3 separate regions of the Homo sapiens genome follow, and regions 2 and 3 are each linked to region 1. The links come from fine-mapping of genetic effects on gene expression. A gene starts in region 1. Each other region holds a variant in brackets. All regions are shown on one strand. Distances are between the middles of the regions. Region 1 holds the start of RUFY3 (RUN and FYVE domain containing 3). Region 2 has its middle 37 kb from the start of SLC4A4. Region 3 overlaps RUFY3 (RUN and FYVE domain containing 3).

Region 1 (11,068 bases):
AGTTTCTATTCTGCATTATGAAAATCAGAAATAACCCAGATGCCTACCAACATGAAAATGAATCAGAAGACCAGGCACAGTGGCCAATGCCTGTAATCCCAGCACTTTGGGAGGCCAAGGCGGGCAGATCACGAGGTCAGGAGATCAAGACCATCCTGGCTAACCTGGTGAAACCCCATCTGTACTAAAAATATAAAAAATTAGCCAGGCATGAATGGCATACACCTGTAGTCCCAGCTACTTGGGAGGCTGAGGCAGGAGAATCACTTGAACCCGGCAGGTGGAGGTTGCAATGAGCCGAGATCGTGCCACTGCACTCCAGCCTGGGTGACAGAGTGAGACTCCATCTCAAAAAAAAAAAAGAAAATAAATCAGAATGTGTTTTTGTTATTGTTTTTTTGAGACGGAGTCTCTCTCTCTTGCCCAGGCTGGAGTGTGGTGGCATGACGTCGGCTCACTGTAACCTCCGCCTCCTGGCTTCAAGCAATTCTCCTGCTTCAGTCCCCTGAGTAGCTGGGATTACAGGCACGTACCACATTGCCTGGCTAATTTTTGTATTTTTACTAGAGACGGGGTTTCACCATGTTGGCCAGGCAGGACTTGATCTCCTGACCTCAAGTGGTCCACCTGCCTCAGCCTCCCGAAGTGCTGGGATTACAGACGTGAGCCGCCGCGCCCTGCCGAATCAGAAATTTTTTGTACATGCATTGGAACACTACCTTGTAATACAGCAGCCAAAAGGATAAACTACATATGCACACTACGGTTTGGATGAATCTTAGAAAATACAGCATTGAAGGCCAGGTGCGGTGGCTCATGCCTGTAATTCCAGCACTTTAGGAGGCCGAGATGGGCAGATCACCTGAGTTCAGGAATTCAAGACCAGCCTGGCCAAGATGGTGAAACCCCATCTCTACTAAAAATACAAAAATTAGCTGGGCATGGTGGCAGGTGCCTGTAATCCCAGCTACTCGGGAGTCTGAGACAGGAGAATTGCTTGAACCTGGGAGGGGACAGGTTGCAGTGAGCCAAGATCATGCCACTGCACTCCAGCCTGTATGACAAGAACAAAACTCTGTCTCAAAAAAAAAAAAAAAAGAAAAGAAAAGAAAAAATACGCATTGAGTGAAAGGCTTAGAAAGTTTTATAGAGCATGAAACACTTTCTATAAGAAAGTTGAAAAAAACTGAAACTAAACATATTGCTTAGACCTTCATATATTTGTGACAATATTTTTGAAATAAGATAATGATTTACACGAAATTCAGAAGGTTACCTTGAAATGAGAGGCAGGAGTTTAGAAGCAAGAAGGAGCACATAAGTACATATGTTGGTCCATTTCTCCAGTTGAGCAAGGGTTTCAGGGATATTGGTTATATTCTTTAAGGACTTAAAATTATACATTAAGTTTGCTATTTTTAAAAAGCGTACAATGCATCATTTTAGAAAGTGATTCCCCCCTTCATTTATCTTTTTCTATTTTGGAATTTATCAGGTGTTCTTAATGTGTCCAACTAGTATGTAAATGTGGAGGGAACTCAGAGACAGAGTGGTAGTAGGGTGAACCAAGTACATAGTGGAAGCATTTTATCTACCCTTTGTGAGCCCATGACAGAAAAGTCCATACTGGGTTCTCAGTTTGTCAGAATGTGCCCACTTACTAAAAGCCTGAACTTAATATGTAAGTTGGGGGGCCTAGAGGAAGGTATGGGTTGTGCAGCATTAAGGTGTAAAGTATGGAGGCTGATAAAAAAAATTTCTTCAAATCTTAAATTTGTTGAAACTCATCTTTAGGAAATTTCATGAAGAGACTTTGCGTGTGTGTGTGTGTGTTTGTGTGTGTGTGTTTTAAATGTCTTTTTATTTTCTCTGAATAAAATTTAACATCCGGGGATGAGGAAGAGTTAGGATAGAGTGCTGAAGTTGCAGAGTGTAGAAGGAACATGGACTTTGGAGGTATCTAGACAGAAGTAGCTTGGAGTAACAGATCTGCTACTCGCTAATTGTGTGATTCTGGGCCAGTTACGTGGCTGAACTTTGGTTTCATTGTGTATAAAGAGAAGGTATCAATCTCTGTTTTGCAGTGCTTTTGTGAAGACTTGACATGGTATTTTTTTTTTTTTTTTTTTTTTTTTTTGAGACAGAGTCTTACACTGTTGCCCAGGCTGGAGTGCAGTGGCGCGATCTTGGCTTACTGCAACCTCCGCCTCCCGGGTTCACGCCATTCTCCTGCCTCAGCCTCCTGAGTAGCTGGGATTACAGGCACCCACCACCATGCCCAGCTAATTTTTTTGTATTTTTAGTAGAGACGGGGTTTCACCGTGTTAGCCAGGATGGTCTCAATCTCCTGACCTCGTGATCTACCTGCCTCGGCCTCCCAAAGTGCTGGGATTACAGGCGTGAGCCACCGCACCCAGCCCTTTACATGGCATTTGTAAAGCACCTAACAGAAAATAGAAATTTAATAAATGATAGCTATTTTAGGTAATTTTTCCACAATATATAACAGAGACATTGAGCCTGTCAAGTTAACCTTTGTCTTATAGTAGCAGCCGAGTACAAATATCCTTTAAGAGGAATGTAACTTCTGACTTTGAAGTGTGACTCTTATTTGCTTTGAATCCATCATAATGTGGAAAATACAGACTGTTTAAGCAGCTAGAACGTAGTATTTTTTGGATCTTCATTTTGGATTTGAACTTCACACAGGCCTATTCTTTTAGGGCCACAGACTGAACTCCCACCCGCCTCACAACCATCTTACAAATAGGTGCCATTACTCACAAATGGGATCAAATGAGAAAATAGTTCAATACAGCTCATACAGTAATTACTCTGTATGTGAGAAAAAAAATCAAGGTTTGAATATCTTACTGATGGCTTAACTTTAACTTCATATTCAAAGCTAAGATGTTTACTTAGTAAAGACCAAAATGTAAAAACGGTACTAAGCAATATCTAAAATCTTTTTTTTTTTTCTTTGAGACGGAGTTTCACAGGCTGGAGTGCAGTGGTGCAATCTCACCTCACTGCAACCCCCGCCTCCCAGGTTCAAGCGATTCTCCTGCCTCAGCCTCCAGAGTAGCAGATTACAGGCATGTGCCACCACGCCCAGCTAATTTTGTATTTTTAGTAAAGATGGCGTTTCTCCATGTTGGTCAGGCTGGTCTTGAACTCCCGACTTCAGGTGACCCGCCTGCCTCAGCCTCCCACAGTACTGGGATGACAGGCATGAGCCACCGTGCCCGGCCGTAGAATTGTTTTTATAAGTTTCTACAAATAGCACTGTTTTCATAGTAACTTCTTTGCCTGTGAACAATGGATAACTGTTCGTGCTGAAGACTCAATGGTGTTTACCTAAAGAACAGCGTAGAAGTACAGTTTTTCTTGCCCACCCCCGGGTCTTATTTCTGAAATGGCTGCCAACACCTCAAACTGGTAGATCTGGGAAATTCAAGGATACCAATACAGGCATGTTTTTCTTTCCTTGCCAAAAACTTTAGTTGTTTTGGGCTTGCCTCTCTGTGTCCTCTACCTGGAGAGAGGCAGGGTGGGATGGATCTTCCGAAGGAATGTTAATCAAGTTTCTTGCTCACTAACCTTGATGTTCCTGTTGTGTTGGTATGTTGCAATCAATCTAGATCTGTTCAAGTTAGTAAATGCTTACTGGGGTGAAGAGATTGTTGTGGTTTGTGACAAGGCCAAATTCAGGTTTTGGACCCCAGACAATCACATGGCATTCGGATTTATTCATGTATTCCTTGTTCTGTTTTAAGAACATATCAGTGATCTAGAGTTTTGATATCACACATACAGATAGCTAGGGCTGTTTGGAGTTGTGGTTCCAGGAATGTCCCATGTAATTTGAAGGTTTTAATGACTACTTACTATGTTTTGAAGTATTGCATGATATAAAGTGAATCTATAAACTGTCCCCTTATTAATATATAATATGGGAATATTTTTGGCTAGAAAGGAATTGAACTGAATTAAATGAGAATGTGTTAAATGAAGGCTTGTGTTCAGTATTTGGATATGAAAATTCTGTTTCCTGGAAAAGGTGTTTCTGTCTTACTGCTGCGTGCCTAGTGCCTGGATCACTACCTGGCATGTGGAGCACCTCTTAGTGAATATCTGTTGAATGAATGAATGAATGAATGGCTCTGAGTCTAGATGTAGGGTAATGATGAGAGAGAATGAGATAGAAATAAAACCAGGAGTATTTTGCTTTCCTTAGTAACTTACTGATTTTCCCCAATTATAAATAAGCCTATATATATGCCTTCTTACATTGTACCAGTATACCCTCCTTCTTTTTTTTATTTTGAGACAGGGTAGAGTGCAGTGGTATGATCTCGGCTCACTGCAGCCTCTGCCTCCTGGCCTCACGTGATTCTTCCACCTCAGTCTCCCAAGTAGCTAGGACCACATGTGCGCGCAACCATACCTTGCTAATTTTTGTTTTTGTAGAGATGGAGTTTTGCCATGTTGCCCAGGCTGGTTTCAAACTCCTGAGCTCAAGCCATTCACCTGCCTCAGCCTCCCAAAGTGCTGGGATTACAGGCACATGCCACCACATCTGACTAATTTTTGTATTTTTAGTAGAGATGAGGTTTCACCATGTTGGCCAGGCTGGTCTCGAACTCCTGACCTCAGGTGATTTGCCCGCCTTGGCCTCCCAAAGTGCTGGTATTATAGGCATGAGCCACCGCGCCCAGCCATCCGCCCTGTCTTCGTAACAATATGAAAATGCCAGTTTCTCTACAGAATTTGATTATTAGCATTTTTTTCTTTCAGTTCAGTCTCAAATTATGATGAAGCATTTGAGATTTTAACAATATTCAAGGAGAATTTTTTTAGTTTTCAGAAATTAGGTAAATCAAGATGTCCCTCTGATAACAATCCCTAGAAAGGAATAGTCTCAGGTCATATTTCTTGAATTTGTATGTTCCTCCTTAAAATTGGAACCCTTCAATACAAAAACAAACAAACACTTTCTTTCAATTGTCCAAAACATTTTCAAAGAAAATTCTTATTCTTCTCTTTGTAATTTATGTAGTTCATAAAGCAAGTACCTGCCCTTTTGCTACCAAGGTATAAATGCCTCATTGGATAATATAGGGCCGTGTGTGTGTGTGTGTGTGTGTGTGTGTGTGTGTGTGTGTGTGTGTATTAAGAAAATATAATTGTCTTCAGTATCTTATCGAATGGGAGGATTTTAAAAATATAACATGGTTTAATCTGCTTAGAAACATATTTCATGCTTAAGGCTGGGCATGGTGGCTCACGCCTGTAATCCCAGCACTTTGGGAGGCTGAGGTGGGAGGATCATGAGGTCAGAAGTTCAAGACCAGCCTGGCCAAGATGGTGAAACCCCGTCTCTACTAAAAATACAAAAATTAGCTGGGCGTGGTGGTGGGTGCCTGTAATCCCAGCTACTCGGGAGGCTGAGGCAGAGAATTGCTTGGACCTGGGAGCTGAGATCACGCCACTGCACTCCAGCCTGGGCTACAGAGCAAGACTCTGTCTCAAAAAAGAAAAAAGAAAAAAAAAGAAACGTATTTTATGCTTAATACAGAAACTTGATAAATACAACAAAATCAAAAAGGGGGGAAATTGCCATTAATTGGGAAAGATTTTACTTTTTTAACTTGAAGTTTTTTTTTTGCATTTCTGCCTAACCTAAAAGGTCAGGTTTTTGTACCTTGGAGAAGGAAATTATAAATGCCCAAGAATAAGATATTTAAATTGAAAATCTACTTTAGCTTTTCTTTTTATCTTTTTGTTTTTTTTCCCTCTGAGAACCTCAATTTTTTATGCTTTAGCTTTTCTTAAAACATAACATTTAGCATAGTAAAGAATTTTAATAGCTATGTAGATAAGAATGAAAGAGGTGAATTATATGCTTGTTAAATTAATCTAACTGCCTCTTTTACCATCTTTACTATAGATTATTATCCGGTATTAATTGTCATCCTTTTATTCAGTCCTTGATCCCAAAGTAAGAAGAATTGATGAGGATATGTGCATTGTGTTATGTCTGATCACAGTTTGACTAGCACAGTCTGGAAGTGGGTTGTACAGGATGAGAGAGAGAAGCCTAATTGCTCTCCCAGCATCAGCAGCATCTATAAAGCATCCTGGGAATTGCTTGCCCTACGTTCAGAGCAGCTGGTCACATGAGCCTGAATTTTCAGTTCAGTTCATTAGTCAGCCATTTTGGTCAACACCCTGCTTACTGCGCACGGCCAATCCTATGAGAACTCAGCATCCCAGCTCATCTGAGCAGATCCTGGAAGTGATTTCTGCAGCTCAGGATTTTTTTTTTAAGCTACATTGAAAATATAGGTTTATTTTTTGTTCAGGTTTTTCTTTTATATTTTTTTTCTGCACAAAGGAGGAGGATTTTTCACTTACTCATATCGAGGCCAGATTTTTAAAGCCAGCTAAGGCAGCATCAGCTGTGCGGGATTTAAAGCCTATAGCTCAGCTGAAAAAAAAGGTGGGGGGCAGGGAAGGGAAGATAAAAGGAGAGGAAGCTGGGAGAAGACAAGCATCATCTTATTTTGCTATGTGGTAGGAACTGTCTATAAGATAGTGTAGAATTGTTTATCTTGAGCAGTTTGTTCTTAACCTATAAGGTATTTTTCCTTTTTTTTTTTTTTAAACCTCCCCCACCCTTTTCCTGAAAGCTTTGTTTCAGAGCTTTGTATTGGGTTTTTTTGGTGAGGAGGTTGTATTTATTTTTTTGGTGTGTGTGTGTGAGTGTGTGTGTGTCTGTGTGTGTGTTGTGGTCCCAGCTGAGTCATCATGTCTGCTCTGACGCCTCCGACCGATATGCCAACCCCCACCACTGACAAGATCACACAGGCTGCCATGGAGACCATCTACCTTTGCAAATTCCGAGTGTCCATGGATGGAGAATGGCTCTGCCTGCGAGAGCTGGATGACATCTCACTTACACCTGACCCAGAGCCTACCCATGAAGGTATGGTCAGATCCTGTCCGCTAGTATTTCACCAGCATCCTCATTGTTATGGGGGAGGGCTGGGAGGATCAGGGAGAGGTAGAAAGAACCTACACTCTCAACTGTTAACAGTCCTGAAAACCTTGCATCCTTACTTACCACCCAGCTCCCCTTCTCTTGCTCATGGGGGAAAGATAATTTTTTTTCTTGCCCCTTTAGGTATCCTTTCAAAAGATGCTGGATACTCGTTTAGAGTTCTTTGTCTTTAAGCCTCTAAATAAAACATTTGAGGTCACTTATCACATCTGATTCTATTCAATAATGAGAAAGCTATTAATTTTGTTCATATATGAAAATGTTATAGAAATTGTAGTGATTTATAACACTAAGTTAAGACAACATGACTATAATTATAGGATTGTACATGATGAATACAGTAGAAACACCAGGGTATTTGGTAATGGTATCCTCACCATTATATGAGGATACAATTTTAAGCAAGTTATGACATCTAGGAAATGTTTGATAAAACATTTTTTTAACAATATGGATTATTAGGTTAGATGAGAAAATAACTTTTCAGCATTTATTTATTGAATATGGACTCCTAAGAAAGCATAATGCCTGGAAAGGTTAAATATGATTAATATGGCATCCCTATAGATTACAATAGAATGGTAATATTGGAATCTATTGGCCATTGCTTTTTATAAATTATTTGTGGTAACTATTATGATCCATTTGAGATTTCCACTGTCAGTACCTCTGAGATCTTTGTGGTCTCTTGACTTGCGACTTTTTTCCAGGACTCTTGCTAATTTATGAGAGGTTTTCTGCTTCTACCCTTTAATTCTCTTAATACCACAGAAAGAGAGCTGATTTGAATCATAGCTACAAATCGTTTTGTTTTTAATACAGTTGCTTCTTAGCTAAGGTTTATTCTCTGTCCTTATACTGATGAAAAAAAACAAAAAACGCTTGCATATGAGGAGAAATTCTTTATAAACATCTGCCTGATAGTTAGGCACATCGACAGGACAAAGAAGACCATAGGTGAATTGTACCTAGCAGATGGGGTTAGGAAAGGTGATTCTCTGCCTTTGACCTTGAGTTGAAATCTTATCATGACTCAGAATTTTCCCATTGTGTTTGATAAGCATTTTATCTTCCCAGTCAGCCTTAGCCTTGAGAAAGTTTTAGGGATGGTTAATAACACAGAACACAAAGCAGTCATTTTGGGTGTGTCTTTAAGAACAATGTTTAAGTGGTTTTTAAGACCCTTTGCATCTTTTAACAATTGGTTTGTTAATTAGACAGCTTTCTTTGGCTGTATGTTTCGTTATGTGCACAAGTTATAAGACATCAGCTGAAATTCCATGCAATGCCAGTACTATTTATTTTTTATTATTATTTTATTCTATATTTTCATCAAAACATCGTTACATCCAACAATTCCAGTACTACTTAAAACAGCCTCCAAAGCTTTAAAAGTCTTTAGGGAAGAAAAATACAGTTTTAGAAGGCTACCAAGAAGTCTTCTGGCAACTGCCTCAGTTTACATATTTTGTTTGAAAAAAATGTATTCCCGTCCAATTTGAGAGTTATACAATATGAAATATTCCCTTTATCATGAAATCTAGTTTACCAGTGTCTCAAAAATAATTTTTAACAATTTTAACACCTCAAATATATGTTTTTGGAGCAGGATTCCTATGGATAAGCAAAAGTGAGCTGTTTGGTTCATGTAAGCGTTTTTAGCAGCGCCATTTGAATTCTTCATAGAGAAATCTGTAGCAACACATTTCTCAGTATGGAAAATGTGTGAGAGCTATAATCTAAGTAATAAATTGTATGTCTGCTGATTAAAGAAATCAGATAAATACAGAGTTTCCAAGACCTGTAATCAACTATAGAGGATTTGGAAGAAAATAGAGAAATGCCGACAGTGCATTTTAGAATTTTGCCTTAAATTGGGCAAGAAAGCTATTATTTTAAATTACTAGAAATGAAAATAAAGAAAGCATAGTCCCATGAAAGCCTGTGAGTATTACTGCCTTGCTCCATTACCAAACTCTGGATATTTAAACAGTCATTTGGTCCCAAGAAATACCCACTTTTATGTTAATACCACTGATAGTTATTAGATTTAATTTAGCTATAAGCATTTAAGTGGTGGTCACCAGGCCCATGATTATGTGAATCTCACCTTGTTCACAAAATGGAACTCCTGATGTCTGGACGCGGGAGTATTCAGACTGCTTTCCGGGCTGATTCACAGAGGGAAAAACATCTGACCACCCAAATCCTAGAGTGAAGTCTCCTCACTCCCACAAAAGAAAATAGGCAAACAGCATAATGTTCCCTCTTAAAATGATGTAGACTGACTGTGTGTACTCAGCAATAGAGGCTCTGTGGCTTCCATATTTTATTTTCTTAAAACCAGAGTTCCTGGCCCTTCACTGAGCAGTCCGCAGTATAGGCCTGGACCTAGAGTTTCTGCCTACTTTAACCCTTAAATAAATGAAAATAAAAGCATTCACTTCATTATCTCAATGCTTATTGGTGGTCAATGAGGGATTATCTCTCTTTTGTCTTATATACTCTTTTTTTTTTTTTTGAGACAGAGTTTTGTTCTTATTGCCCAGGCTGGAGTGCAATGGCGCAATCTTGGCTCACTGAAAACTCTGCCTACCGGGTTCAAGCGATTCTCCTGCCTCAGCCTCCCAAATAGCTGGGATTACAGGCATGCGCCACCACACCCAGCTAATTTTTGTATTTTTAGTAGAGACGGGGTTTTTGCATGTTGATCAGGCTGGTCTCGAACTCCCAACCTCAGGTGATACACCCTCCTTGACCTCCCAAAGTGCTGGGATTACAGGTGTGAGCCACCATGCCCGGCTTATATACTCTTATTTTCAAAAGCCAACAGCAAATCTACAACAAGTTTAATTGCAAATAGATTTCCCCTAAAGGCAAGAGCCTGTGATTGACTCCACAGGAGAAGGGTCAGGAGAGGCTTCATTAAGTGAGACCTTAAGAGATAAACAGGTGATCACCAGACCGACATAGGGAGGGCATTTCAAACAGTACACAGTGAGCTGGCCCAGCCAGGGAATAGCAACAGGAGCACAGAGGGCTTCTGTTTGGCACAACAGGGAGCAAGACTGGAAAGATAAGCAGGGGCTTGACTGTAGAAATCTTATTCATACTGAAAAGCCTGCACTTGATTCTGTAGTGAAAAGCTACTGGTGCTTTATGTCTGGGAGTAACATAAAATAAGATTTGTGTTTGGAATGATCACTCTGGCAACAGTGTAGTGAATGGATCAGAAGGATATAAGCTCTCAGGGACCCCTAACTATAACTTTTAAAATGGTCTGGGTAAGAGATGACAATCTCACATTAAGGTAGCAAGAGTGAACACCAAAGGAACAATCCCTGGAAAAGCAGAATGTACCCGATGACTGAGGGGCTGGGTGGCTGGAGAATGAACATAAGGCAGTGCCTGGGATGACTCTCCAACTTCTGGCTGCAGAAGCTAGGTTCCCTTTACCAGTAGGGAATATAGAAGGAAGAGAACATTTGAGTTGTTGATGCTTAATAGATTGTGACTAACAAAAGCACTACCATCACTCTTTTTTTTCTTTTTTTTGAGACAGTTTCGCTCTTATTGCCCAGGCTGGAGTGCAATGGCGCTATCTCAGTTCACTGCAACCTCCACCTCCCAGGTTCAAGCAATTCTCCTTAACTCAGACTCTCCAGACTCCCCAAGTAGCTGGGATTACAGGCATGCGCCACCACGCCCAGCTAATTTTGTATTTTTAGCAGAGACAGGGTTTCTCCATGTTGGTCAGGCTGGTCTCGAACTCCCGACCTCAGGTGATCGCCCGCCTCAGCTTCCCAGAGTGCTGGGATTACAGGCGTGAGCCACCGTGCCCCGCCCATTACTCTTTCAGTTGAGCCTTCTACCCGCCCCACAGAAGCATTAATCAGATTTATACTTTTCCAGATTACATATCCTGGCTTAAGTCTGTACCCTAATTTACATTAAGAGTTGGAATCCTCACATGGAAAGGCGGGGGTGAAGATAAAAGGAGTGAGA
Region 2 (8,000 bases), 430 kb after region 1:
TTTGAGTGAGTTTCTTAATTCTGAGTTCTAGTTTGATTGCACTGTGGTCTGAGAGACAGTTTGTTATAATTTCTGTTCTTTTACATTTGCTGAGGAGTGCTTTACTTCCAACTATGTGGTCAATTTTGGAATAGGTGTGGTGTGGTGCTGAAAAGAATGTATATTCTGTTGATTTGGGGTGGAGAGATCTGTAGATGTCCATTAGGTCCGCTTGGTGCAGAGCTGAGTTCAATTCCTGGATATCCTTGTTAACTTTCTGTCTCGTTCACCTGTCTAATGTGGACAGTGGGGTGTTAAAGTCTCCCATTATTATTGTGTGGGAGTCTAAGTCTCTTTGAAGGTCACTAAGGACTTGCTTTATGAATCTGGGTGCTCCTGTATTGGGTGCATATATATTTAGGATAGTTAGTTCTTCTTGTTGAATTGATCCCTTTACCATTATGTAACCACCAGGCCTGCCCTAAAAGAGCTCCTGAAGGAAGCACTAAACATGGAAAGGAACAACTGGTACCAGCCACTGCAAAAACATGCCAAACTGTAACGACCATCAAGGCTAGGAAGAAACTGCATCAACTAATGAGCAAAATAACCAGCTAACATCATAATGACAGGATCAAATTCACACATAACAATACTAACCTTAAATGTAAATGGGCTAAATGCTCCAATTAAAAGGCACAGACTGGCAAATTGGATAAAGAGTCAAGACCCATCAGTGTGCTGTATTCAGGAAACCCATCTCACATGCAGAGACACACATAGGCTCAAAATAAAGGGATGGAGGAAGATCTACCAAGCAAATGGAAAACAAAAAAAGGCAGGGGTTGCAATCCTAGTCTCAGATAAAACAGACTTTAAACCAAGAAAGATCAAAAGAGACAAAGAAGGCCATTACATAATGGTAAACAAACTTTTCTCTCTTTTTTGAGAGAATTACACAGGGGATTAGGAATTATATGAATTTTGTTGTTTAACAAGAAGCCCTCCCCTTTCTCTCCTTTCAAATTTCTCCTCTTAAATTTCTTTATTTTTCTTCCTTCTCCTTTATGTTTGCCTTTTCTCTCTTCCCCTGCTCTTCCTGTCTTCTTTTCATCCTCCTCACCTCTGTCTGCCTTTTTCCCAACTCTCCTTGGAGGTGGTGGTTCATGATGGTCAGTGAGTAATAGGCAGTCAGAGAGATGAATTCCAAAATCAACTGTGGGGAAGCAACCCACACACCACAGTGATGCTTTTCCTTCCTTTCTCCTTGCACTTCTCCCCTGGATGAACCAAGGACTTGGGTTTTTCTGCCAGTGCTCTATGATGGAGTACAGTTGGAGAAGGAGGAAATAGGAAAGAAATGGGGCTTGATTTAATCACAGCAGGGGTTCACTTGTCAGAATATCAAGCTAATTTATAGCATTGTGACATGGAACATCACATTTCAGAACACAGAATTAAAATCAGTAGGATCTCACGGTTGTCCAGGTAGGGTCTTTCTGAGGAGGGGTCCTGAGGGGGCATTGCCACCACCCATCTGCATTGTTGCCAGAAAAATAGCTGTTTACCAGATTTATAAGGCTGAATTTGTTTTGGTTGAATTCCACATGCCTGGTAAATGTACTAGTCTGGCCTGGTTGTCCCGAGGGAGGACAGAGCACACTCCATAAGCTGTGACTCTAGAGGGAACTGGGCTGGTTTCAAGAAAGTCCTGGGCCTGACCAGTGAGCAAGATTTAGTGTTTTCTTCCATGTCCTTCCTTGCCCTCCAAAGTTCAGGTAAGTGACTAGATTCACAAACTTATTTCAGAATGCCAGGAGGAGACTCATGGAATCATAGAAACTTACAACTGCAAGGGACTTTAAAGATCACCGACCCCACTACTGACTTATGTTCCATCTTTCTTCTCTGCTTCTGGCCTCTGCCTGAGCAGTGACAGGGAACTTCCAAGTTCCTGAGATAGCACATCTGATATTTATAATTTTAGAGACAGCTCTGACAATTGGAAAGCTCTTCTTCATATTGAGTCAACATCTCTCTGGGCTAAAGTTTTTCCCACTGGTCTCTCTCGAGCTCTTCTGGGACCTTGTGAAACAAGTCCTGGGTCTGTCTAAAAAGAAACTGGATCTCCAAACCTTCCAAAGAAATTAATTTTCTTTCTTTTTTTAATTTAACTTTTAAGTTGGGGTACATGTGCAAGTTTGTTATATAGGTAAACTTGTGTCATGGGAGTTTGTCATACAGATTATTTTGTCACCCGGGTATTAAGCCTAGTACTCAACAGTTATTTTTTCTGATCCTCTCCTTCCTCTCATCCTCCACTCTCTGATAAGCTCCAGTGTGTGTTGCTTCCTTCTTTGCATTCATGTGTTCTCATCCTTTAGCTTCCACTTATAAAAGAGAGCATGTGGTATTTGGTTTTCTGTTACTGTGTTGGTTTGCCAAGGATAATGGCCTCCAGCTCCATCCATGTTCCCGCAAAGGACATGATCTTGTTCTTTTTTATGGCTGCATAGTATTCCACAGTGTATGTGTACCACATTTCCTTTATTCTAAATACCCCTTGATGGGCATTTGTGTTGATTCAATATCCTTACTATTGTGAATAGTGTACATATGCATGCCTGTGTCTTTATAATAGAGTGATTTATCTTTCTCTGCATATATACCTAGTAAGGGGATTGCTGGGTTGAATGGTATTTCTGTCTTTTGGTCTTTGAGGAATTGCCACAGTGTCTTCCACAATGGTTGAATTAATTTACACTCCCAACAACAGTGTATAAGCATTCCTTTTTCTCTGCAACCTTGCTAACATCTATTATTTTTTGACTTTTTAATAATAGCTATTCAAAGAAATTAATTTTCTAAGGTCCTCTCTAGAAATAGCCTTAGGTCTTGAAACTGACATTAAACAAAGTAGTTGAAGCCAGGTGTACTCAGTGAGTTTAATTAGAATGGCATGATTCTCTTTCTTGAATGTTCTCATTATTTTTTAGAAGATGGCATGAAGGCACTCATTATTATTATTATTATTGGTTTAAAAGTAAAGGCCCCAAAATAGATTCAACAGAGAAAAAAAATTATAAGAAGATTCTTTCCTCCAAATGATAGTCTTTTTCTGGGCTCCTTTCTGATATGATTTTGGGGCATTGATTAAAAAAGGTTATAGAAACAAGACACAGCTCTACTTGATCAAGGAGCAGGAAGTCATAAATTTTGTATATTAAAAGCATTGGGTGTGAGAGGATTAAATTCCTTCAGCTACTGGATCAAACTGGAGAGGAGAGCTCTAAACAACTTTCAGGTGTGAGCAAGAAATTCTGCAAGTCCTCTTAGGTAAGGAGGCACTTTCTACTTTATTTCTCATCATTTATGTGTTCAACAAATGTTTGTTAGGCATCAGTCACATGTTGGGCTCTGTGCTCCAAATATGAATGGGGGCTTAAGGAGGGCCATGTTTTCCTTTTACCTTCTGA[G/A]GCTTTACTTGAAACCAGTTTTGTCAACTGTGCTGATAGGTTTGGATGAGATTCACTGTTTACTAATGGCTTTTCTGTTCTTATCACCATGAAAATGCAGCCAGAGCCAGAGTTTTATTGGCTTACTTTCAACAATGGTAATATTTTTTGATTCATCAAATGGAGCCCCTAAATCCAATTAGCCATCTGGCTTAACTTAATTTTTGATCAACTTAAGTGTGAATTCCTTTTTTTAAAACTAATGTTCTTTATTTTTTTAAAAAACTTAAGCTTTCATTTTAGGCTCAAGGGTACACGATTAGGTTTTTTATATACATGTGAATATACCTGCTTATAATTACTTATCTGTAGTATATGTTCATAAAACCATCTTTAATGCTTCAATACCCCTTGAATTTTATGACTGAAAAAGAAAATATGTTATTAATCTTTGGTATTGTTACAAAAATAAATGTTGAGCCTTGACAATCCTTGGAGTGTCCAAGCAGTGAGTTTCTGTACACATTGATGTTGCCTAGGGAAACAGAGTATCTGGAAACAGAAATTTGGGTTTGGCTGAAGGTGGAATGGGTGAAATAGCAACTGGGTTCTGGGGAGAACCAAGAGCCATATGTTAAGATGTGGTTAGGGAAACAGATGCCCTTCTCATAAATGGAGATGGTCTGCAAGTTGCCTTCCTCTGGGAACCAAGGTTTGGTTTCAGCCAGAAATAGTGGTATGTAAATATCCTGATTCCCTCATGTGCAGAGAGAGAACTAAGCCAGTAAATACAGAGCCTTTTTTAGTCAGCAGAAGGCAAATGAAGACTCAACTAAATGCGTTACCTAAATGGAAATGTGAATTTAGTTTGCAAAATGCTATAAAGGTGCTGCCATTCAGCATGACAAGCAGAAAAGATGATTTAAAAAATGAAATCCTTTGCTTTATTCCATCAAGGCATTCAACTAGCAAACTCTTCATATAAGTGTGCAGAGATGGAAATGGGAGAAGTGCAGGTGAGAGCGCTTGGGATTTGTGACCCGAATTCACCTTTGGCAGCTTGCGGTCCTTAAGTTGCCAAGTGTTCTGGGACCACTATCTCTCTATGGCCTCCCTTCCCCTTTCCATTAGCTCTCTGCATTTTTCTTATATTTTACTTCTATGCGCTCAAAGGTCTGGAATCTGGGGATGTTTGTAGAAGAGTTATGGTTCAATCAGGTATGTTGGGGAAGAAATAGTTTGCTATTTGAAAGACCATGCCTCAAATTGTTCTTGCATGATTTTCATTTCTAATTGTGAGGACATGAAAATATCCTGTGCTGTTCAATACAGTAGCCACTAGCCCCATGTGGCTGTTTATATTTAATTTTAAAGTAATTTAAATCAAATTAAAATTTCAGTGCTTTGGTCACATTAGCTACAATTCAAATATTAAATTGCCACATGGATGGTGAATATTTAGAACATTTCCAACATCACAGAATGTTCTGTGCCACAGCACTGGTAGACTGCGTCTACTGGTTTGCTGCCAACCTCTTCCAATGACTAACATTTGTTGTGTGTTTAACTTAAACATGTATTCCTAATAACAAACATCTTACTCATTTTAATGACATATAGACTATATCAACGGTAGGTTTTGCCCTACTTCTTTAGAGTACTGGCCTGAAGGAACTAATTCAGTGCATTTCTCTGGTTCTGCTGACCTGCTGACCTCTTCTGATGGTCCAAGGTGATCTCTGATGAAGTCTTCATTTTCTCTCTCTGACATAGCCTTTGTCATTTTTACCTTTAATGACATTTAATGTCATTTTTACCTCTACTTATTTACTGTTTTTTAACACCATCTGTTCTTTCCTCTGTTTATTCTTTTTCATCAACTTTTTAGGCCTTTTCTCTCTTCTGCATATTCTTGTGTATATTTTTATACGTAAAAAATATTTCCTGTCTGCGCATGGTGGCTCACACCTGTAATCCCAGCATTTTGGAGGGCTGAGGCGGGAGGATCACTTGACCCCGGGAGTTCAAGGCTAGCTTGGGCAACATAGGGAGATCCCATTTCTACTAAAAAAAAAAAAAAAAAATTAAGGCCGGGCACGGTGACTCATGCCTGTAATCCCAGCACTTTGGGAAGCCAAGGAGGGCAAATCACTTGAGGTCAGGAGATTGAGACCAGCCTGGCCAACATGGTAAAACCCCATCTCTACTAAAAATACAAAAATTTTTATTAGAGGTGTGGTGGTGTACACCTGTAGTCCCAGGTATTGGGACTACAGTGAGCCATGATCATGCCACTGTACTCCAACCTGGGTGACAGAGCAAAACCCTCTCAAAAAAAAATTTTCTTTCAGAAAAGTTTAAGAACTTTAAATATATAGAAAGGGTATATATAATGTGTATCTATAAATAATTTAAGAAAATAATATAAAGTATACTTACATTCTTATCAGCTAGCTAAAGACCTAGAAGACTACTCCTACATTACATGTTTTCTGTACGTCTCTCCTTCTGTATTCCCTTCTCACCAAGTGGTAACCATTATTCTAAATTTTGTGTTAATATTTCCTCTGATCTTTAATACCTTTATTACATATATGCTTATCTCTAAATAATACAACATATATTTTTGCCCATTTTTGAACTTTACATATGTGGAATCATGCTGTGTACATTTTTCTATGACTTGCTTTTTTGGCTCAACATTACATTTGGGGGATTCTTTCACTTGAAATGTTATTCTATGAGACTTAGTTCTTTCACTCGAGATTATGTTTTTGAGAATAATTCATGTTAATATGTGCACATGTAGCTCATCGTTTTCATATCTGTATAATAATCCATTGTTTGAGTATATGCAGCAATTTATTTACTGGTTTTACTCTTAATGGGCATTTGGGTTCTCTGCATTATTTCTTTCACTATTATGACCTGAGGTACTATGGACACACTATTTTTTTCCAATCAGCTTCCTCAGGTTAAAGGACATTCTTACACATCTCTTGACGCACATGTGCATCAGATTCCTAAAATATTTACCCAATGGTGCCCACCCAGGTTAAGGATGGGTCTGCCTTTCCCAGCCCACTTTCTTTGATCTTTTTTCTATGCTTATTTCACCTTCATTTCTCCCCTCATCTCTATACTGCATAATACTCTCCATTTGCTCATTCACTAAATAAAAGGAAGAATTATTTTATCCTCAGGAAAGTGTCATTTTGGATGAAAAGGACTGGTATATATCACATATATATATCCTATATATATGTGTGTGTGTGTATATATATGTAAATATATATGTGTATATATAAATATATATGTGTATATATATAAATATATGTGTGTGTATATATATATATATATATAAAAATAAAAGGAAGTTTATTAAGTATTAACTCACATGATCACATGGTCCTGCAATAGGCCATCTGCAGGCTGAGGAGCAAGGAGAGCCAGTCCGAGTCCCAAAACTGAAGAACCTGGAGTCTGATGTTTGAGGGCAGGAAGCATCCAGTACAGGAGAAAGATGTAGGCTGGGAGGCTAGGCTTTATATTTTAAACAAGCTGGCAGCTGATTAAATGGTGCCCACCCACGTTAAGGGTGGGTCTGCCTTTCCCAGCCCACTGACTTGAATGTTAATCTCCTTTGGCAACACCCTTACCGACACACCCAGGATCAATACTTTGCATCCTTCAATCCAATCAAGTTGACGCTCAGTATTAATCATCACAACTGGCTTCCTGGAAGTACTAGGGAGTGACGAAAAGACAGACCTGGTTTTGAAACCCAGCTCTCCTCCTGTTAGATGTCTCTGGCCATTGGCTAGTCGTTAGTTAACCTCATTGAGCTTCACTTCCTTCATCAGTAAAATGAAGGGTTCTAAAACTTTTTTTCAGAGAGTAGTGTGAAGATTAAATGAAATAACACATGTAAAGCCTTCAGCACTTGGCATGGTACATAGTAGGCACTCAATATGTCTTGGTTTTTTTTCTTCGTCTTTGTTAGAAATAAAATATTTCATTATCTACACTACACCTTACAAGCAAAAGGCCAGACTCGCTGTCTACTTCACCGATTAGTAGCCAGTAAAGAGACAGATGGAAATGTTTTAGGACTTCTACTCATTCTCTCTCAATGCCTCTTATTGACCCTCTACTCCACGCCCTTGTTCTTGTCACCAGTGGGCTGGAAGCACATAATCAGGGTCATCAGTATGTGATGCAGGAGCATCAGTAGCCACCAGTCTAGTCTAGCACACAGGAGAGAGTGATGAGGCAGTGAGGTGAACAAAACAATGTCATACAGTCTTGGATGTTTGTTCAGACCTACCATAATTCAAGACATATGCGGATTTGGAGTAGATTATGATTGGGGAGTTCCTTTCAGGAGAGGTGACCTCTAAAAGGTCTATGCTGGTCATCAGGGCTTGAAAACAGCCAATGTGAGGGTCACTGACAAGGGTTTGCATTTGTTCAAGGAGCTTTGCCTCTACAGACTTGATAACCTTTCTATCTTCCTGGAAATGAGCTTATGGCTATGGCTCTTCAAAGGCTTGGTATTATGAAGGT
Region 3 (11,068 bases), 86 kb after region 1:
GGTAGTGTGTCATCTGGAGCAAAAGTAGCTGCTGGAGAAGAGAAAACACACAGTCCAATAGTAAGCTAATTATGCAGGTGCTTGGCCTAAATGTCCCTTTCTGGCCTTGCTCCCAAAGAGCATGGTTTGATCCAGAGCTAACTTTAAACTATCACCCATCTCACATTACAGAATGGCATAAGCAAAGAGAAGGGAACTAGAAGGGCCATAAAATTAACCTGGGCTTCCAGGTGCCTTTCAGGGTCAGCCTCGTTCCAAACTAAAATCAAATCATTTACTTGAGCAACCAGGAGTGTCTTAAATGCCAACTTCTGATTTAGGTCCTGAGAATATGGAACAGTGCTTCCTTATATCTGAATTGTGCTCTGCAACTTAGAATTTGTTTCACATTTATTATCTCCTTATGATTCAGTATTCCTTACAAAAGTACCTAATGCAACTTTACAGATGAGAAAACTGAGAAGCAGAGAGGCTGGGTGACTTATCCAAGTTGCCTCTGTTTATCATGTCTACTGTTTTTAAGTCCTTTGGCTCTGCACTACCTATTAGCAACTTCCAGGACTTATTCTGGCCATAGCTGCAATCGTTAGACATACCAGGCTTCCTGGGATTATGATGGCAAGGAACATCGGAAAACCTGGTCACCCCATGGTGTATGTCTGGTGGTCACACTGCTACTCAAGTGAAAAGAATAAGAACCATTGCAATCTGTAGTGCATTTTCCCTGTAACCGAGAGCGGGCTTTGCTTCACCTCTCATTTAGGCTCTAGTCCATGCTGGAACATCGGAGTTAGCTCAGCTTAGTCCCTCATGAAGAAATATTTCAACCTGAATGGGTTTTCTGGTGACAGTCTCATTCATTTCCCCTTCTTGGGTTAATTTGCTAAAGCTCACATCTTAAGAATATTTGGGACTGATACACAACATGTGATAATGGATAATGGATAGATTTCCATAATATCAAATAGAAAAAAAGCTACTAAAATATATGGCCAGTGAACCATTGGAGTTTTACACATTGGGAAACATAAATGCTAACTATTTTGATAGCAAAAAGGAATGTAAAATATAACTTCAAATCTATTTTTAAATGGGAACCCTTATATAATAAGTCAAGGGTCAGATTCTAGTGATTCATTTTAAGAAGCAAAGTTTCCTCTCCTTGGAGGTCAAAATTAATAATTATGTTGTTCTAAGTAATATAAAAGACCTACAGTATTTCTTGTTTGAAAAAAATGTTTGTATTCTGAGCTTTTTATTGAAATGATATAAATGAAAATACATGAAGTTCCTATTTGTCACAATTTTTTACTTCTCCATTGTAGGCTGCAACCCCACCCTATGGATGAACAGGTAACAGAGCCTCCTGTTTCAAAACATCTTGTATGAATTATGAAGTTGGTTGTACCGTGCCTAGCCAGCAAATAAGGTAGCATGGGCGGAAGATGAGTGAATACAGTGTGCCATCCTTCTAACAATACCCTGAACAAATATGTATTGCCTGAAGCTCACACAGGAAGTAGCACAGCTTTGAGCAGTTTACTAAGTAAACATCAGTTCTCACCTATTTTAAATTATCCCTGACATAAGATCTAGGAGAGCTCACTTTATGTCCCTTTCCTCTAGTTTTTCCTTACATAAAATGGAGAGAAAAAAGATGTTTTGATCACTTAGAAATAAGCTAACATAAATGATTGTAAAACACTTTGTTAATCTAATAGTATATGATAAGCCCATGAGAAAGACAGTGAATGCTACTGTGTCTGAGTCACCCTGTCATTTACCTCTTAGGTTATAAAATAAAATAAGTCCTACTGCTTTCCTTTTTTTTTTTTTAAATGGAGATAAGGTCTTACTCACATTGCCCAAGCTGGGGTGCAGTGGACGATCTCAGCTCACTGAAGCCTCAACTTCCCGAGCTTAGGCAGTCCTCCCACTTCTGCCTCCCGAGTAGCTAGGGCTGCAGAGATTAGGTTTCACCGTGTTGCCCAGGCTGGTCTCAAACTCCTGGGCTCAAGTGATCTTCCCGCCTTGGCCTCCCAAAGTGCTGGGATTACAGGTGTGAGCTTCCATGCCCTATGCTTGCCATTCTTTTTTTCCTTTTTTTTTTGAGACAGAGTCTCACTCTGTCACCCAGGGTGGAGTGTTGTGGCACAATCTCAGCTCACTGCAACCTCCGCCTCCCAGGTTCAAGTGATTCCCCTGCCTCAGCCTCCCGAGTAGCTGGGATTACAGGCGCCCACCACCATGTCCAACTTTTTTTTTTTTTAATATATATATTTTTGGTAGAGATGGAGTTTTGCCATGTTGGCCAGGCTGGTCTTGAACTCCTGACCTCAAGTGATCTACCTGCCTTGGCCTCCCAAAGTGCTGGCATTACAGGCGTGAGCCACCAGGCCCAGTCCCCAGTGCTTTCCATTCTTGATGGTAGAGTGAACAAGAGGAATGGGATAGTGTTAAAACTTTTTACTCTATACTTGCATGTGTTTGAATTTTCTTTTTAGAAATCATGTTATTATAAAAATTAAGAGCTGGAAGCATAATGATAGGATTATCCGAGTTGTATTATGGTGGTAGGACTACCTATTTATAATTGGTTTAGTTTCCAGATAGTCTATAGTGTGATTATATTAATATTGTAGGTAAAAAATGCATATTCTGAAAGTACTAATATTTCTGGCACTAAGAAAAACTAACCAGCTCCCTGTGTGGTTTAGGATCAGCTGCTGCTCTCTGAAAAGCCACAGTTGTGTCAGCTATGCCAGGAAGACGGCAGCCTAACAAAGGTAACTGTGATGAGAAACGGACAGGCTTTTCATAGGGATGTCTACAGCAGCCCCCAGTCCCTCCCCAGGAGTAACAGGGACTTTCCCGCATAGAGTGCAGAGTGCATGCAGAGTGCTGGGAGTGGGGTGAAAAGCAAAAGGGGCAAGCATTTACTGGGTACCTGTTTTTTCAGTCATAATAATTCATGTCAGAAAATTCCCATTAAAATAAACATAAATAGCCAGGCGCGGTGACTCACGCCTGTAATCCCAGCATTTTGGGAGGCCGAGGCGGGCCGATCACAAGGTCAGGAGTTCAAGACCAGCCTGATCAACATGGTAAAACCCCGTCTGTACTAAAAATACAAAAAAAAAAAAAAAAAAAAATAGCCGGGCGTGGTGGCCTGTAATCCCAGCTACTCAGGTTGCTGAGGCAGGAGAATCGCTTGAACCCGGGAGGCGGAGGTTGCAGTGAGCCAAGATCACACCATTGCACTCCAGCCTGGGCAACAGAGCGAGACTCTGTCTAAAAATAAGTAAATAAATAAACAAACAAAAATAATTATGTAATAAAGCAAATAAGCAGATAGAAATGTATAAGTAAATATTGAGTGCCTGCTGTGTAGAATGTGCTGGAGAAAGAGTAATGAACAAAGTAGACCAAGTCTCTGTTCTTGTCAAGCTTATGTCCTTCATAGCTGTCATTTTATAGATGAAGAACGTTGAACATCTAATGCTAACTACATTTCCCAAAATTAAGTCATAAGTGATGAAGCCCAGCTTCCAACCTAGCTTTCGCTCCAAAGTCCACAGTCCTTTCAGCACTTTATCCTGCTCAGAACAGGATATGAGCTCTCCCTGCTAGACCACTTGTTTTCCACCCGATCCTCAAGGGTGCCTGCCTGAGCATCTTCCCAGTTTGTTATCCTAGAGTAGGCAGAGTTAAGGAAGTATTCAGAAAGAATGAGTGCCCTTGATAGCTGGAACTGTGTCTTGTTCACAGAATCCCCCAGCATCTAATATGGTACCCAATCCATAGTAGATCCTCAAGAAAAGTTATGTACAAATGAGTGTATGAAACACATGCTTGGAAGAGATACAGGAAACAGGCTCAAATTCTGGATCACAACCTGCATAGCACCATCTGTGATCATGCAAAATTTTAATAAATTATAATATGACCTAGTCTTAAATTCACAGAATCAGATAACAAATGAACTGCCCTTATAGAACTGGAAGTTACAATTATAGAAATATGTTACAAAGTAGAACAAACTGTTAATTCTGGCTTTCCTCTTCTAAGCCATGCAATATTAGCTTCTGTATGTCAGACAAAAATTCTTCTTAGGCTTTCAGATAAAAGCAACCCCCTACTCCTCTCAACCTCAGGAAGATGAATTATTTGGGATGAAGGTAGCACTTCATGGGAGAAATTATTCTTTACAGCTTTTTATATAGGACCCTTGGAGCTTTGTGTATACCACCCTATCACAGCCTTACTGCTGACATTGCTATAGTGACTTCTTGCTCTCTGTGCTTGACCATTAAAGATGCAAAACATTTAGGAAAACAAAATAATTTCCCTATGAACAAGATGCAGGAAGCTGTGCTCCTGCTGCATTGATAACCCAGTGGATGTGCTTACAGAGCACCAGAGACCACAGGAAAGCATAAAGCACATCAGTGTATTTATTAGGAATTATACTTTCAGTTCATACTCTGGACATTTTTAAATCTTAGCCTGTTCACTCAATCCATTGCTCTTTCACTGCCTTATTTGGAGTATGCGCAGGTACTTGCAAACTAATTTTAAAACTAACCTACCTCAAAGTGAGTATGGGGAACAGATGTGTGAAGGATATTCTAAAGATAAGTGACTTGTATGTTACCTGTTTTTATTTTTAACTCTATGGCACTGCTTCTTTTCATTTAAATCTAAAAACTAGACGGTGAACTTTTTTGTAGATTGGGCCTGTGTTCAGATACTACCTGGCACATAGTAAACATTCAGTCATTGTTTGATTAGGCATTGAGCATTTGCCATATTTGGCTTTTTATATCCCATGAATCCTTATGCCTTGCTCATCTTCTATTCCCCGCCTAACCTCCTCTTCTCATAGAATGTGTGTAAGAACTGCAGCGGAACCTTCTGTGATGCCTGTTCAACAAATGAACTGCCTCTTCCTTCAAGTATCAAGCTTGAGCGAGTTTGCAATCCCTGTCACAAGCATCTGATGAAGCAATATTCTACCAGCCCATCATAAGACTGGAGGCCAAGACCTGGACCAAAACGTTTATGCAGGCTCCTCTGTACCTGTGTTTTAGCTGTCAGGATCTCATAGAGCCCAGTTCTTAGAGTCAACTAAAGAGTTGATAGGAATTTACTAGGTCCAGGGAGAAAAGGCAGTGGTTGGGGTTACTGGAAATTTTGCTCATTTTCTCTAATGACTGTATGAATAAAAGTGAACTTACTTGAGCCTTTCTCTTCTAAATCTAAACAACCTGATATTGAAGGTTTGCTTTATAGCATATCTTTGGAA[A/G]GGCAACTCATTTTTATGATTAGTGATACTGGGGTGGATTTAATAGGAGAGAGAATCCAGGCAGATAAGAATAAAAAGGAAAATGATCATCTCCTTCTATAGCATTTGCAGATTCAAGGGGGAGAGGTAGATGCTGAGATCAAAATGACAGTTGTTACTTATTTTTCCAGGTGCTGTTAGTATAAACATTGTTTCCTCTTCACCCCTGCTAACTACCTCTTTAAAGTATTTCTACCAAACTGTGAACCCAATCTCAGGGAAAAGAAATTAAAAAGTAATATAAATTCTGCATATATTAAAAACAATATTGTAATATGTTATAATTTCAGGACCAGAATTTTCTGGTCTTTACCTACAAGGGTTTTCATTATCAAAAAAAAGAACATTTGTTTTTCTACTTTATGACTTCAAAGTAAATAACTGCCCTTTTCAGAATCTCCTTCCACAAAACAAGCCAACTCTTCCCCATTCCCTCCATCTTCCTTTCCAAGTCATAATGGAAATTGTAAGGAGTTTTAAAAATAGGGTTTGGCTTTTGCAAATAGAAGATATTGATTAAAGCAAAGTCAAATATAGAGTAAAATAAGTTTAATTTGTTTTCTTAAGACAGGGTCTTGCTCTGTTGCACAAGCTGGAGGGCAGTAGTGCAATCACAGCTCACTGAATCCCTGTTCTCCCGGGCCTCAAGCAATCTTCCCACCTTAGCCTCCCAAGTAGCTGGGACTGGCTTTTTTTTTTTTTTTTTGGCCGGGGAGGGGGTCTCATTGGTTGCTCAGCCTGGTCTCAAACTCCTGGGCTTAAGCAGTCCTCCCACCTTGACTTCCACAGTGCCGAGATTACAGGCATGAGCCACCACACCTGGCCAAGTTTAATTTGTTCATGGCTGAGAACAGTTAGCTCGGAATACTTACATTGTTTTTTGAATAAGGAATTCCTTATTCTGAGTGAGTCACGAATGAGAGCTGATAGATGCTTTCTTGAAAAGGGCAATACAGTCATCCCTTGGTATCCATGGGGGATTGGTTCCAGGAACCCAACTTGATATCAGAATCCATGGGTGCTCAAGTCCCATTATAGAGAATGGGTTATATGGTATTTGCATATAACCTACATACATCCTCCTGTGTACTTTAAATCATCTGAAGATGATTACTTATACCTAATAAAATACCTACACATCACTTCATTTGCATGGATTCAACATAGTGCTTGGTGTTCAGTAAATTCAAGTTTTGCTTTTTTGGAACTTTGTGGAATTTTTCTTTTTCTGAATATTTTTGATTGGCAGTTGGTTGAAGCCATGGATGCAGAACCCATGGATATGGAGGGCTGACTGTACTTACTTACATATCTATCTATCTTTGAGTAACAAACTCTTTGGGGGAAAAGAGGGAAGTGTATTGAGCAAGAGAAGGCAAAAAACATTACATAATATTTTGATTCTGTTACGTGTGTCTATAGATTGTTTCATTCTAATCAAGACCTAAGAAGGTATGATTCTGTGACTGATTTAGAATTCTGGGGTGGAAATATCCTGGAACCATGTTTTTTAATAAATTCTGTCTCTTGGAAAGAGTTAACAACAGCCTGGGAAAGAGTTGTTATTCCAAAAGTCAGCCTGTTACTTGGTGAAGCTGAAGTTTAAGAGTTCTGGGGAAAAATAAAATCTAGTAATTCCAGCCTAGTTTGTTGATTGATGATTGTCTTTTTTTTTACCCTAAATAACAACATTTCTTTTTTGAATCTTCACTCTCATTTTTTGGCCACCTACATGAGCTAGCACTCTTTTAGGTGCTATACATGATGTGGGGCACAAAAATGGACTACAGGAGTGTTGCCCTAAATTAGAAAGTTATTTTATAACTAATTTTAAATTAATTTGAAAAGATCTTTGTAACACAATATAAGGAGGAACAGTCACTTGATACTTTACTTAGAATTACACATAAATATTAGCCTTAAAAAAATTTAGGCTGGGCGCGGTGGCTCACATCTGTAATCCCAGCACTTTGGGAGGCCAAGGCAGGCAGATCACGTGAGGTCAGGAGTTCGAGACCAACCCGGCCAATGTGGTGAAGCCCCATCTCCACTAAAATAAATTAACTAACTAACTAAATAAATAAGTAAATGCAAAAATTAGCCAGGTGTGGTGGTGTGCACCTGTAATCCCAGCTACTGGGGAGGCTGAAACAGGAGAATCATTTGAACCCAGGACGGAGGTTGCAGTGAGCCGAGATCACACCACTGCACTTCTGCCTGGGCAACAGAGTGAGATTCCATCTCAAAAAAAAAAAAAAAATTTACAACGTCCCAAAGATCTTTAGTTACAGTGCAGCCTCCCATAAAAGCAAGGAGACCAAGTCATGAATACCTTGACTTAATGGTATGCCTATCTGTCTTCCTTTACAATTGTGCTTTTCACCATTTACAATAGTATAAACTGAACCAAAGAGGCAAAGACTTGTACATTGAAAACTTCAAAATGTTGCCATACAAAATGAAGACATAAAAGTATGTTTTTCACCAGGCACGGTGGCCCGCACCTGTAATCCCAGCACTTTGGGAGGCCAAGAAAAAAAAGTATCATATTTTCATGGAGTCAAAGACTTAATAAATATTGTTAAGATGTCAATACTACCCAGAGTAATCTACAGATTCAATAGTCCCTATGAAAATCCCAACATTTCTGCAGAAATAGAAAAATCAATCCTAAAATTCATACAGAATGTCAAGAGACCCCCCCCCCCGATACTCAAAATAATCTTGAAAAAGAACAAAGTTGGAAGTCTTCACTTACTGATCTCAAAATTTAACACAAAACTACAGTAACCAACAGTATGGTACTGGCATAAAAATTAGCATATAAACCAATGGAATAGAATAAAGAGCCTAGAAGTAAATCTTTACACATATAGTCAGATTTTTGACAGGGGTGCCAAGACCATTCAGTGGAGAAAATAGGGTCCTTTCAACAAATGGTGTTGGGAAAACTGGATATCTACATACAAAAAAAAGTTGGACCCTTACACCATATACAAATATTAACTTAAAATCCATCAAGAACTAGCTCCATCCACTAAGGTTGGAAGAAAAAAGAGAGCTAGAATCATTAAACTCTTTAAAAAAGAAGAAAAAGAATTATTGGCCCCGTGTGGTGGTGCATGCCTGCAATCCCAGCACTTTGGGAGGCCGAGGCAGGTGTATCACCTGAGGTCAGGAGTTGGAGACCAGCCTGGCCAACATGGTGAAACCCCGTCTCTACTAAAAATACAAAAATTAGCCAGGTGTGGTGGTGGGCACCTGTAATCCCAGCTACTCAGGCGGCTGAGGCAGGAGAATTGCGTGAATGTGGGAGGCGGAGGTTGTAGTGAGCCGCGATTGCGCTATTGTACTCCAGCCTGAGCGACGGAGCAAGAAAAGACAGAAAAAAGCAGCCTGTCTTTTTTTTCAATCTCAAAAAGAAAAAAAAAAATGGAAAAGCTTCATGACATTGGATTTAGCAGTAATTTCCTGGGTATGACCAAAAGCACAGGCAACAAAAGGAAAAACAGATTGGACTTCAGCAAAATTAAAAATTTGTGCATCAAGGGACACTATCAGCAGAATGAAAAGGCAACCCAAGGAATGGGCGAAAACATTTGCAAATAAATCCTGCAACAATAAAAAGCCTGAAAAAAATGAGCAAAGTACTTGAATAGACACTTCTTGCAAAAAGATATAGAAATGTCCAATAAGTACAGAAAAGCTCAACATCAGTAATCACTGGGGAAGTGTACAAATCAAAACCACAATGAGATACCACTTTATAAACCTATTAAGGTGGCTATTATCAAAAAAGCAGAACAAGTGTTGACAAGGACATAGAGAAGCTGGAACCCATGTATACAGTTGGTGGGAATGTAAAATGGTACAGCAGTATGGTGATTTCTTAAAAAAGAAAAAAAAACAATTAGCATATATAATCCAGCAAATCCATTTCTGGGTATATACCCCAAAGAATTCAAAGCAGGAACTTATACAGATACTTGTACACCAGTGTTTACAGCCCTATTATTCAAAATAGCTGAAAGGTAGAGACAACCCAGGTATCCATCAATGGATGAATGGGTAAACAAAATTTGGTATATGCATACGATTGAATATTATTCAGCTTTAAGAACAAATTCTGACACATGCTACAACATAGATGAAACTTAAGGACATGATAAGTGAAATAAGCCAGTCATACATAGGACAAATATTGTATGACTCCATTTACACTAAGTACCTAGAATAGTCAAAGCATAAAGTAAAATGATGGTTCCCAGGGGCTTAAGGAAGAGCAGAATGGGGAGTCAGTGTTTAATAGGTACAGTTTGTGTTGGAGGAAGATGAAAAATTCTGGTGACAGATGGTGGTAATGGTTGCACAGCAATGTGAATGCACTTAATGCCACAGAAATGTACGCTTACAAATGGTTAAAACAGCAAGTTTTATGTATATTTTACTAGTTTAAAAAAAATTGTGTTTTCCGGAAGGATTCAGAAAGTAATTACAATTATGTGTGTCTATTTGGGTTATTACACAGGCATATATCTCTGTTCACTGAGAGGGCCTAGCAGCAGACATGCCAGCAGCAACGGGTACATCCAATGCCCAGATCTTGTTTTCTAATACCATTCTCCAAGAAAAGGAATCAGGGCTCCCTAGAGAAATGGCTGATTCTGGGTCTAGGGCATCTTGTAGTGCCAGAAAGTAAAGAAGTGTTCCACAAACAAGGATGTAGGCATGTGAAAGGGACACAGGAGCCAACTGATAGAATGCCCAATGGCCAAAGATGAAACAAATCTCAGCAACAAAGTAAATAATGCACCTTAGGATTATAACCCAAAGGATAAAGTAAGTACCCATGAGTCCATGTGTGTATATGACCTGATGGAGCGGTAGCATCTCTCCTATACAGAAAAAGCCCAAATAATTATGTAGATACCCCCCGCCCCTCACCACTTCAAGGAGATAGAGCTTAACTCTCCACCTTTCGAGTATGGATTGTGCTTAGTAACTTGCTTTAAGAGTACAATATGTAAAGAAGAAAAAAAATTTATAGTAACCTGGCAAACACTATCTTGGCCAGGTGATCAAAATTTGTATTAATATAATGAGTGATAAGCCCTATTAAAAATATGCACCCTTGATGTGATGAAAATGCCCCTTTGTGGTCTTCCTCCTAAGACCAGAAGGAAAACAATCAGAAAACCTCACCTTACGAACATTCTACAAAACCAGCTAGTACCCCTTAACACTGTCATGGTCATCAAAAACAAGTCTGGGATCCTTCTGTAGTTCATAAGCGTGACGACTGGGCTTTCACACTTCTGTGTGAGATGTGCCTCCTTCACACCTTGTTACATCAGGACATTACCCATCTGACGTGAAAAAAGTTAAAAAGGTTGGGAATCTGAAGTCATTAAAAACAAAAACATCTGAGGTGGTTAAAGAGACATAACTGAATGTAATTGTGGGATCCTGGAATGAAAATAATATTTGGAAAAAAACTAAAGATCTGAACTGTGGGATTTAGTTAATAGTAATGTATCAAATTTGGTTCCTTAGTTGTGACAAATATCCTGCAGTAATGTAGGATACTAACAATAGGTATACAGGTGGGTGAGGCGTATACAGGAACTCTGTACTCTTTTTGCAATGTCTCTGTAGATCTAAAACTTTGTTTTTTTTTTGAGATGGAGTGTCACTCTGTCGCCCAGGCTGGAGTGCAATGGCGCA

Evidence for each region.
Region 2: its variant is fine-mapped to the expression of RUFY3 in subcutaneous fat (TwinsUK, PIP 0.95).
Region 3: its variant is fine-mapped to the expression of RUFY3 in whole blood (TOPMed, PIP above 0.99). The same link has a PIP of 0.9 or more in NK cells and monocytes.

What each region holds. Positions count from the first base shown.
Region 1 is chr4:70,715,764-70,726,831 of GRCh38, forward strand. It overlaps RUFY3 (RUN and FYVE domain containing 3), which reads left to right and starts at 6,201. Exons shown (of 18, transcript NM_001037442.4): 1 at 6,201-6,988. The coding sequence starts at 6,811.
Region 2 is chr4:71,146,257-71,154,256 of GRCh38, forward strand. It overlaps a transcript of SLC4A4 not described here. Among named protein-coding and RNA genes, the nearest start is that of SLC4A4, 37 kb to the right of the region's middle. The variant G/A (reference allele first, on the strand shown) is at 3,456.
Region 3 is chr4:70,801,631-70,812,698 of GRCh38, forward strand. It overlaps RUFY3 (RUN and FYVE domain containing 3), which reads left to right. Exons shown (of 18, transcript NM_001037442.4): 16 at 1,326-1,353; 17 at 2,718-2,786; 18 at 4,886-6,989. The coding sequence ends at 5,029. LOC124900900 (small nucleolar RNA U13) reads left to right here and starts at 10,616; the gene lies at 10,616-10,716. The variant A/G (reference allele first, on the strand shown) is at 5,306.